Linked DNA regions of Homo sapiens. The protein of the gene in region 2 purifies or fractionates together with the protein of the main gene of each other region. This does not show direct contact. Each region holds a gene or a part of one and is shown on either strand. Other genes may lie near its edges.

Region 1 (3,500 bases), on a different chromosome or scaffold from region 2:
GTGGGGTTTTGCGGGGCTGGAGGGGTGACCTGTCCATGGTTACAGTGCTAAGCAGGAGCAGGTCCTGGGTGGTGGCCAGGTCTCCCCAGCACAGGACTCCTGCTGCAGGAACGTATTGCTTCCTGGTGCCTGCCCGCATCTGGCCCTCAGTGACCCCCTGCCCTGAGCCCTGCACATACCTGGGCATCCTGCTCCTCGGGCTTCTCCGACGTGGACCCACTGCTGTGGGCACTCCCGTTGGGCTCCTTGGTCTCAATGAGGGCAGGGGAGCTGGACTTTGAGGAAGCTGGTGCTCCATTGGGCAGGGCCTAGAGGAAAGGAGAGCTCAGCCATGATCTGGGCATGGGATGAGAGTGGCGTGGACAGGTCTGGAAGTGACAAGGGCGTGGGAGGCGGTGGGATTAGAGAGCAATCTGAGGCCACAGAACTTGCTTGTGGATTGCAAAGTGAGGCGTCAAGGATGATTTCAAACTTTTTGGTCTGAGCAGTTGTTAATAAAAGGATGGAACTGCCATTAACTGAGATGGGAAGACCGAGGGAGAGCAGGTTATGGAGTGGGAAGGAGGGCAGGAGCTTTGGGCAGGTGGCATTTAAGATACCTATTATATGTACAAATGGAGACGTACAAGTGGCTGTATGTTGAGTGCAGGGAAGACACTGGGGGTGGAGATACAAATTTGGGAGTTGTCAGAGACAGCCTTTAAAATGACACTGGATGAGACTGACATCGAGGTTAGAATCAGCGGGGAGTATCAGCCTTCACTCCGGCAGCCTCACCAGAGTGGGCTTTGCTTTAGCCATAATTAGGCAAAGCCTCAGCCATAGAGCAGTCTCAAATGACACGACTTCCCTGACAGTCACCAAGCTCCTTAATTCCAAGTCTTGTTAGATGGACTCTCATAACTGGAGGAAAGGGTTTTGACATGAGATTACAAAAAATAAGACAACCTCCAGATTCAGCAGGGGATGGTAAAGGGATCCATTTCTGCAACAGCTGCTGGTGGTTTCTAATCAGACTGACAGGAGGTGTTTGGGGGTTGGTGGACAGACCTGGGGAAGCTGCTGAGTGCTTCAGGTCTGTAGATATTCGGGGGATCCCACAAAAAGACCAGAGGGCAGGCCCACAGGATGCACGATTGCAAGCTTGTTCAACCCACAGTATTTTTTGTTTGGCCCGAGACAATTCTTCTTCTTCCAATGTGGCCCAGGGAAGCCGAAAGATTAGACACCCCTGCTCTATTACTTCTATCTCATTCCTCCCTCATTTCCCACTCAGGAAACCTTCCTGGCCTTGGTCCTCCTCCCCCATGACCAGTCACCCCACCCCCACCCTCCTCTCTGAGCCTCTCCCTGAGCATCCACGTCACTCCTGTGGCTTCACTCACTTCCTCCATGCAGGAGACCCTGAGCCCCAACCCAGCTGCTCTCCTGGGCGCCACCGACACATCTCCAGCGGCCCCCTCCTGGATGTGGTCTTGGGATATGCTTCAGTCACCTCCATTGCAACCTGCCATGAATTACACTCACCATCTCCCCCAGAAACCAGCTCTCCCTTGGGAAGGGTGCCAGCCTGCCACTCACCTCTCACAGCCAGCCACTGCTGGGTCCTGCCACCTCTTCTGCAATCTTTCCTTAATCTCCTCCTTTCCAACCCCCTAATCCAGGGGTGGGGTGGGTGGGGTGGGTGGGGTGGGGTGGGGAACTCACCGAGCCATTGAGGCCATTCTGGGTGGCTGTTTTCTTCACCTCTGGCTTGGAGGCAATGATGAGGTAGGTTTCAATACCCTTCTCTTCTAGGTAATCACAGCGGCTGCCCCCATCGCCTGGCTCCACATCAAACTCCCCTTTCAGGCAGTCCATGGTGCTCTGGGAGATGTGCACGCGCCTGGATTGCAGAGAGAGAGGCCCTGAGCGTCGGCCAGAGGTGGCCCTCACACCCCCAGGGGACAGTCCACGGACCACGGCTGCACCGGCTGCTGCTCGGCCCCGTGTCTCTCGGGCATGTGGGGCAGAGGCCAAGTGGAGGCAGTTCTGCCACTAACTAGCTGTGTGGGCCGCTAACTAGCTGTGTGGGCCGCTAACTAGCTGTGTGGGCCGTATGGCACTTACTCCCATCTCAGCCTCAGTGTTGGAGCCACGACACAGGAGTACAATCTTTCTTCAATCTTTGATCCGCTGTAAAGCAGATCAAATGCGATAAGGAATTTTTTTTTTTTTTTTTTTGAGACAGAGTCTTGTTCTGTCGCCCAGGATGGAGTGCAGTGGCTTGATCTTGGCTCAGTGCAACCTCTGCCTCCCGGGTTCAAGCAATTCTCCTGCCTCAGCCTCCAGAGTAGCTGGAATTACAGGTGCACACCACCACACCCGACTAATTCTGTATTTTTAGTAGAGATGGGGTTTCGTCATGTTGGTCAGGCTGGTCTCAAACTCTTGACCTCAGGTGATCTACCCACCTCGGCCTCCCAAAGTGCTGGGATTACAGGCGTGAGCCACAAGATCCAATTATCCCCCACCTTGCACGTTTCTCAGTTGCAACCCCTGCTGCCAAGAGATAATAAAACCTGTTTCTGAGGAGTCACCACTGAGGCCAAGAATCCTAAATGCCACTGAAGGAAGCTCCCTGGCCCAGATGGGGAAGGCTGGGCTGATCCTCCCTCAGCCTCGCCCTGCTAAAGGCAGGGCCTCCATTATCCTGTAAGGGAGCTCAAGTAAGGCGTGTAATCGCACTGCGACCTGCAAAACGCTGCCTGCGAGCCCGCTAGCTGATGACTGCTCATTACTCTCCCTTTGGGGAGACCTGGGCTCTGACATAAGGAGAGCTGGGGCAGCCCCCTTAGTGGGTAAAGGGGAGGCAGCCCCCTAAGTCGGTAAAGGGGACAGGAGGACAGGCTACTGCAGGGTCCAGGAAGGAAAAGCCACATCCAATATCAGGCCCAAAGAGGCCTCACCCCAAGGCAGGTCAGAACGGCCTTAGCCAGGGCCAGGACCAGGGCGAGACAGGAGGAATGCTGTTCCGGGGTTGTAGGGAGGCCTTCTCTGAGGCCCCCTGTCCCTCATCAGGGTCACAGCCCTGGGGGATGGAGGGGACGGTCCCCTCCCCAGTCCTCAAACCTGCCCCCTTGGAATGGCACTCACCCAGGGATGCCGCCGGCCTCCATCTTGTTGGCTACAGTGACATCAGTCGACCACACGTCGTACTGCCAGCGCTTCTGGCCCAGGACGCCCCCCAGCACGGTGCCCGTGTGCACCCCCACACGCATGTCCACCCCAGTCTTGGTCTTCTCCCGCACATACCTGCCAGGTACACACAGAAAGGAGGGTCAGGGTGTGGCCTTCACGAGGCAGCCAGCTGCCCCTGCTCCTGCAGGAGAAATTCATTGTGGGCCTCTTCCCCTCCACAAGAGGGGGCCTGGCAAGGTCCCCACAGCTTGGTGTTGGGTGGGGGGTAAGGCAGGCCAGGGCCAGCCCAGAGTCAGGCATCACAGGCCAGCAGGACGAGG
Region 2 (3,500 bases):
GAGCTCTCCAGGGTAGTAGAGCTCCAAGCAAGGGCAGTCATATTCGGGGCCAGTTGGGCTAGTTTCCCTTGATTAGAATTCAAGGTGTTCTTATTCAAAGGCATCATCACCTCCCTGCCCTAACTCTCCACACTTGTCCCCAATGCATCTGGTAGAGCCCACTTCCTTGCCCAGTTTCTAGTCAATACCTGCCAAAGCGGTTAACAAAGAGTCCGACGGAAAAGGAGCCGATCATACCCCCGACGGAAAATATGGCCACAGACAAGGACCAGAGATTCGTGAGCAGCACCTCAGAGGGAGGGGCATTTGCCTTGTCCGTCAAAGTTTTATTGATAAATTCCTTTATGATCTGCAAAATAAAAGGTGGGAGGACAGACTATTACAGTTGGATGAGAACAAAAGATACAAATATGCTGGGTGCAGTGGCTCACGCCTGTAATCCCAGCACTTTGGAAGGCCGAGGCGGGTGGATCACCTGAGGTCAGGAGTTGCAGACCAACCTGACCAACATGGTGAAACCCCGTCTCTACTAAAAATACAAAATTAGCCAGTTGTGGTGGCGCATGCCTGTAATCCCAGCTACTCGGGAGGCTGAGGTAGGAGAATCGCTTGAACCCGTGGGGCGGAGTTTGCGATGAGCCGAGATAGCGCCATTGCACTCCGGCCTGGGTGACAGAGCGAGACTACATCTCAAAACAAACAAACAAACAAAACAAATATTAGGGATCATTTCCTCCCTAGAGAATCAAGGGAATAAATAGACGGGAATTGAAGAGGCAGATAACATATTGGAATTAATGTTAACTCTCCCTGGAATAGTAATTTTTCATTTGTCCTGAATATCCCAGTAGGTGGCAGCACTGATGTTCACCCCAGCCCTCTGCTAAGCGAACCTGGCCAGCTTGGTAACTAACCCCTAAGGGATAATACAGGAAGTGTATTACTATAGGGTGAAAGAGTGGGAGGAAGAACAGCACTGCCCAGGGTATAAGGAGTAAATGACCTTTTTCCTTTGATTAAATGACCCCACTAATTTTCCCCACCAATATTGTCTCCATCTTCAGTCTTGGACAGGATAGATACAAAGTTTAATTCCCCTAGTTGGGGGAGGGACCCTCACTAACTGTGTTGCTCAGGATGGTGTTTAACTCCTGGGCTCAAGTGATCTTTAAGCCTCAGCCTCCGGAGTAGCTGGGACTCCAGGCAGGTGCCACCATGCCTGGCCTTAAATTCTGAATTCTTGAAACCCTACTTAAAGGAATAATTTCCCTATTCCAGATTCTAATTCTTGTGGCCTGGCACTCACCGTCTCAGGAGCATTGATGACCCCAGTGTTGTAGCCAAACTGGAAAGAGCCGATTGTAGCAACTGTGATGGCAAAGATCAGAGCTGGGGTGACCTGGAGAGACAGAGGACAGGGAGGAGAGAATAGTCCTTAAAACTTGTAATTGATGACTGTTTCTTATTAATTATGGAGCTGTATTAGGAGAATCTGACCTATGAGTGGTATGAAAAGGACAAACATCAAACGAGATTTAGGTAATTAATCGGGAAGACAAAGTAATAGATTATACTAAAGAACTTATCTGGAGATAAGAATGTGAAGTTAACTTGGTAAAAGTGGAAAAGAAAATTGGAGAAGGAAGAAGTTAAGAGAAACTGGGTTGGTCAGTTTGGAAATATTTAAAAACCTGCATCAGGTGAAGGTAGGCATAGAATTCCACTCACGAACTGGGAGGAAAGAGGACAACACAGCCTTGGGTAGGATTACTAAGAATTGATCATTTTGGAAACAAATACAGTGCAGTCTGATCTGTACCCCAGACTCCACGGAAGCCCAGTGGTGGTGGTAGGGGGAGGTGGTAGTAGTTTGTGTCTTCACTGCTGGGTGGCTCTTTGAGTCTCTTATCTCTCAGGACCATGTAACCTACTGGATCTACTCACTGCATCCTGGCCCCATTTCAGTCTTCTGGTTTATTAAATACTGTTCTGCTATCCCTAACCTAACCCCCGGGTGGGGGAAGAAAGAACACTCGGCTCACTACAAACCTAACAAATAAGACATTTCTGGCCGGGCACGGTGGCTCATGCCTGTCATCCCAGCACTTTGGGAGGCCAAGGCAGGTGGGCCAAGGCAGGTGGATCACCTGAGATCAGGAGTTCGAGACCAGCCTGGCCAACATGGTGAAACCCCATCTCTACTAAAAATACAAAAATTAGCAGGGCATGGTGGGGTGTGCCTGTAATCCCAGCTACTAGGAGGGGCTGAAGCAGGAGGATCGCTTGACCCTGAGAGGCGGAGGTTGCAGTGAGCCGAGACCGTGCCACTGCACTCCAACCTGGGCAACAGAGCAAGACTCTGTCTCAAAAAAAAAAAAAAAGAGAGAGAGAGACATTTCTTAGTGGGGAGAACCAGTCGTCTTCACCTTGCCTGGAATAATTCAGCTGGGCAAGTGGATATTATTTTAGATTTCCACCTTGGGGCAGCTCAATTTCTATACCTGAAGCCATCTTCTATGTCCTTTCCCGCACCCCCACCAATCCCTTCAACCTTTCCTATCTTAAATTCCTTTCCTTTCAGGTCAGACAGGGTAGACCACAGGCTGAAAGCTTCAGTAGAACTGACCTTGCCTGCGGCCTCTCAGATGTCTCAGTCACAACTAAGCATCGATACCCTGGAGGGCCCTGCCAGTACAATGCTCTCTGTTAAATCTTTTTCTTTTTAGTAAAAGTCCTTTCTTTCTCCTCTCATCATTCACTATCTTTGAGAGCCTTTTTTTTTTCATTAGTCTCATAACTTTCCATCCCTTCTCTTATTTTCCTTCATTTTCTTTCTTTTTTGTAGAGATGGGATCTCACTGTATTGCCCAAGGCTGGTCTCAAACTCCCAGCCTCAAGTGATCCTCATGCCTTAGCTCCCAAATGCTGGGATTATTTTTAAAGGTTACAATTGGAATTAAACTGAGTCTTGAGAATCTAAAAAATGTGTTGACCTGGGCACAGTGGCTCACATCTATAATCCCAGCCCTTTGGGAGGTCGAGGCAGAAGGATCACTTGAGCCTAGCAGTTTGAGAGACCAGCCTGGACAACACAGTGAGACCCCTTCTCTCTCTCTTTTTTTTTTTTTTTTGAGACCCCTTCTCTATCAAAAAAAAAAAAAAAATTAGCTGGGTATGGTAATGGCAGGTGCCTATAGACCCAGCTACTTGGGAGGCTGGGGTGGGAGGATCACTTGAGCCCAGGAGATAGAAGCTGCAGTGAGCTATGCAGCCTGGGCAACAGAGTGAGACCCTGCCTCAAAAAAGAAAAAAAAAGTGTGTTGAGCATATTGAGACAAGTGTTCCTTGGGCAAATGGCACCTAGGAGGAACCTGATGCTCAAAAACCAGTTCTGCACTGGGCTGGCCCCCAAAGCAACAGAGATGTCCAAGCTTAGATAGTCCTTCACCCTGGCCACTAGAGAAGAGTTGCTCAATATAACTGTTTGTTGATGTGCTTCG

Evidence for each region. Proteins that work in one complex are often made in the same cells at the same time.
Region 1: the proteins of SLC2A14 (region 2) and ADCY3 purify together in Homo sapiens (affinity purification with mass spectrometry; one large-scale study listed by BioGRID and IntAct). This does not show direct contact.

Annotation. Positions count from the first base shown.
Region 1 is NC_000002.12:24,836,738-24,840,237, forward strand, and holds part of ADCY3 (adenylate cyclase type 3), read right to left. Parts: intron 3,295-3,500; coding exon 3,136-3,294; intron 2,176-3,135; coding exon of another isoform or gene 2,110-2,175; intron 1,886-2,109; coding exon 1,708-1,885; intron 309-1,707; coding exon 180-308; intron 1-179.
Region 2 is NC_000012.12:7,831,416-7,834,915, forward strand, and holds part of SLC2A14 (solute carrier family 2, facilitated glucose transporter member 14), read right to left. Parts: intron 1,400-3,500; coding exon 1,307-1,399; intron 350-1,306; coding exon 189-349; intron 1-188. UniProt on the Homo sapiens protein: Hexose transporter that can mediate the transport of glucose and dehydroascorbate across the cell membrane.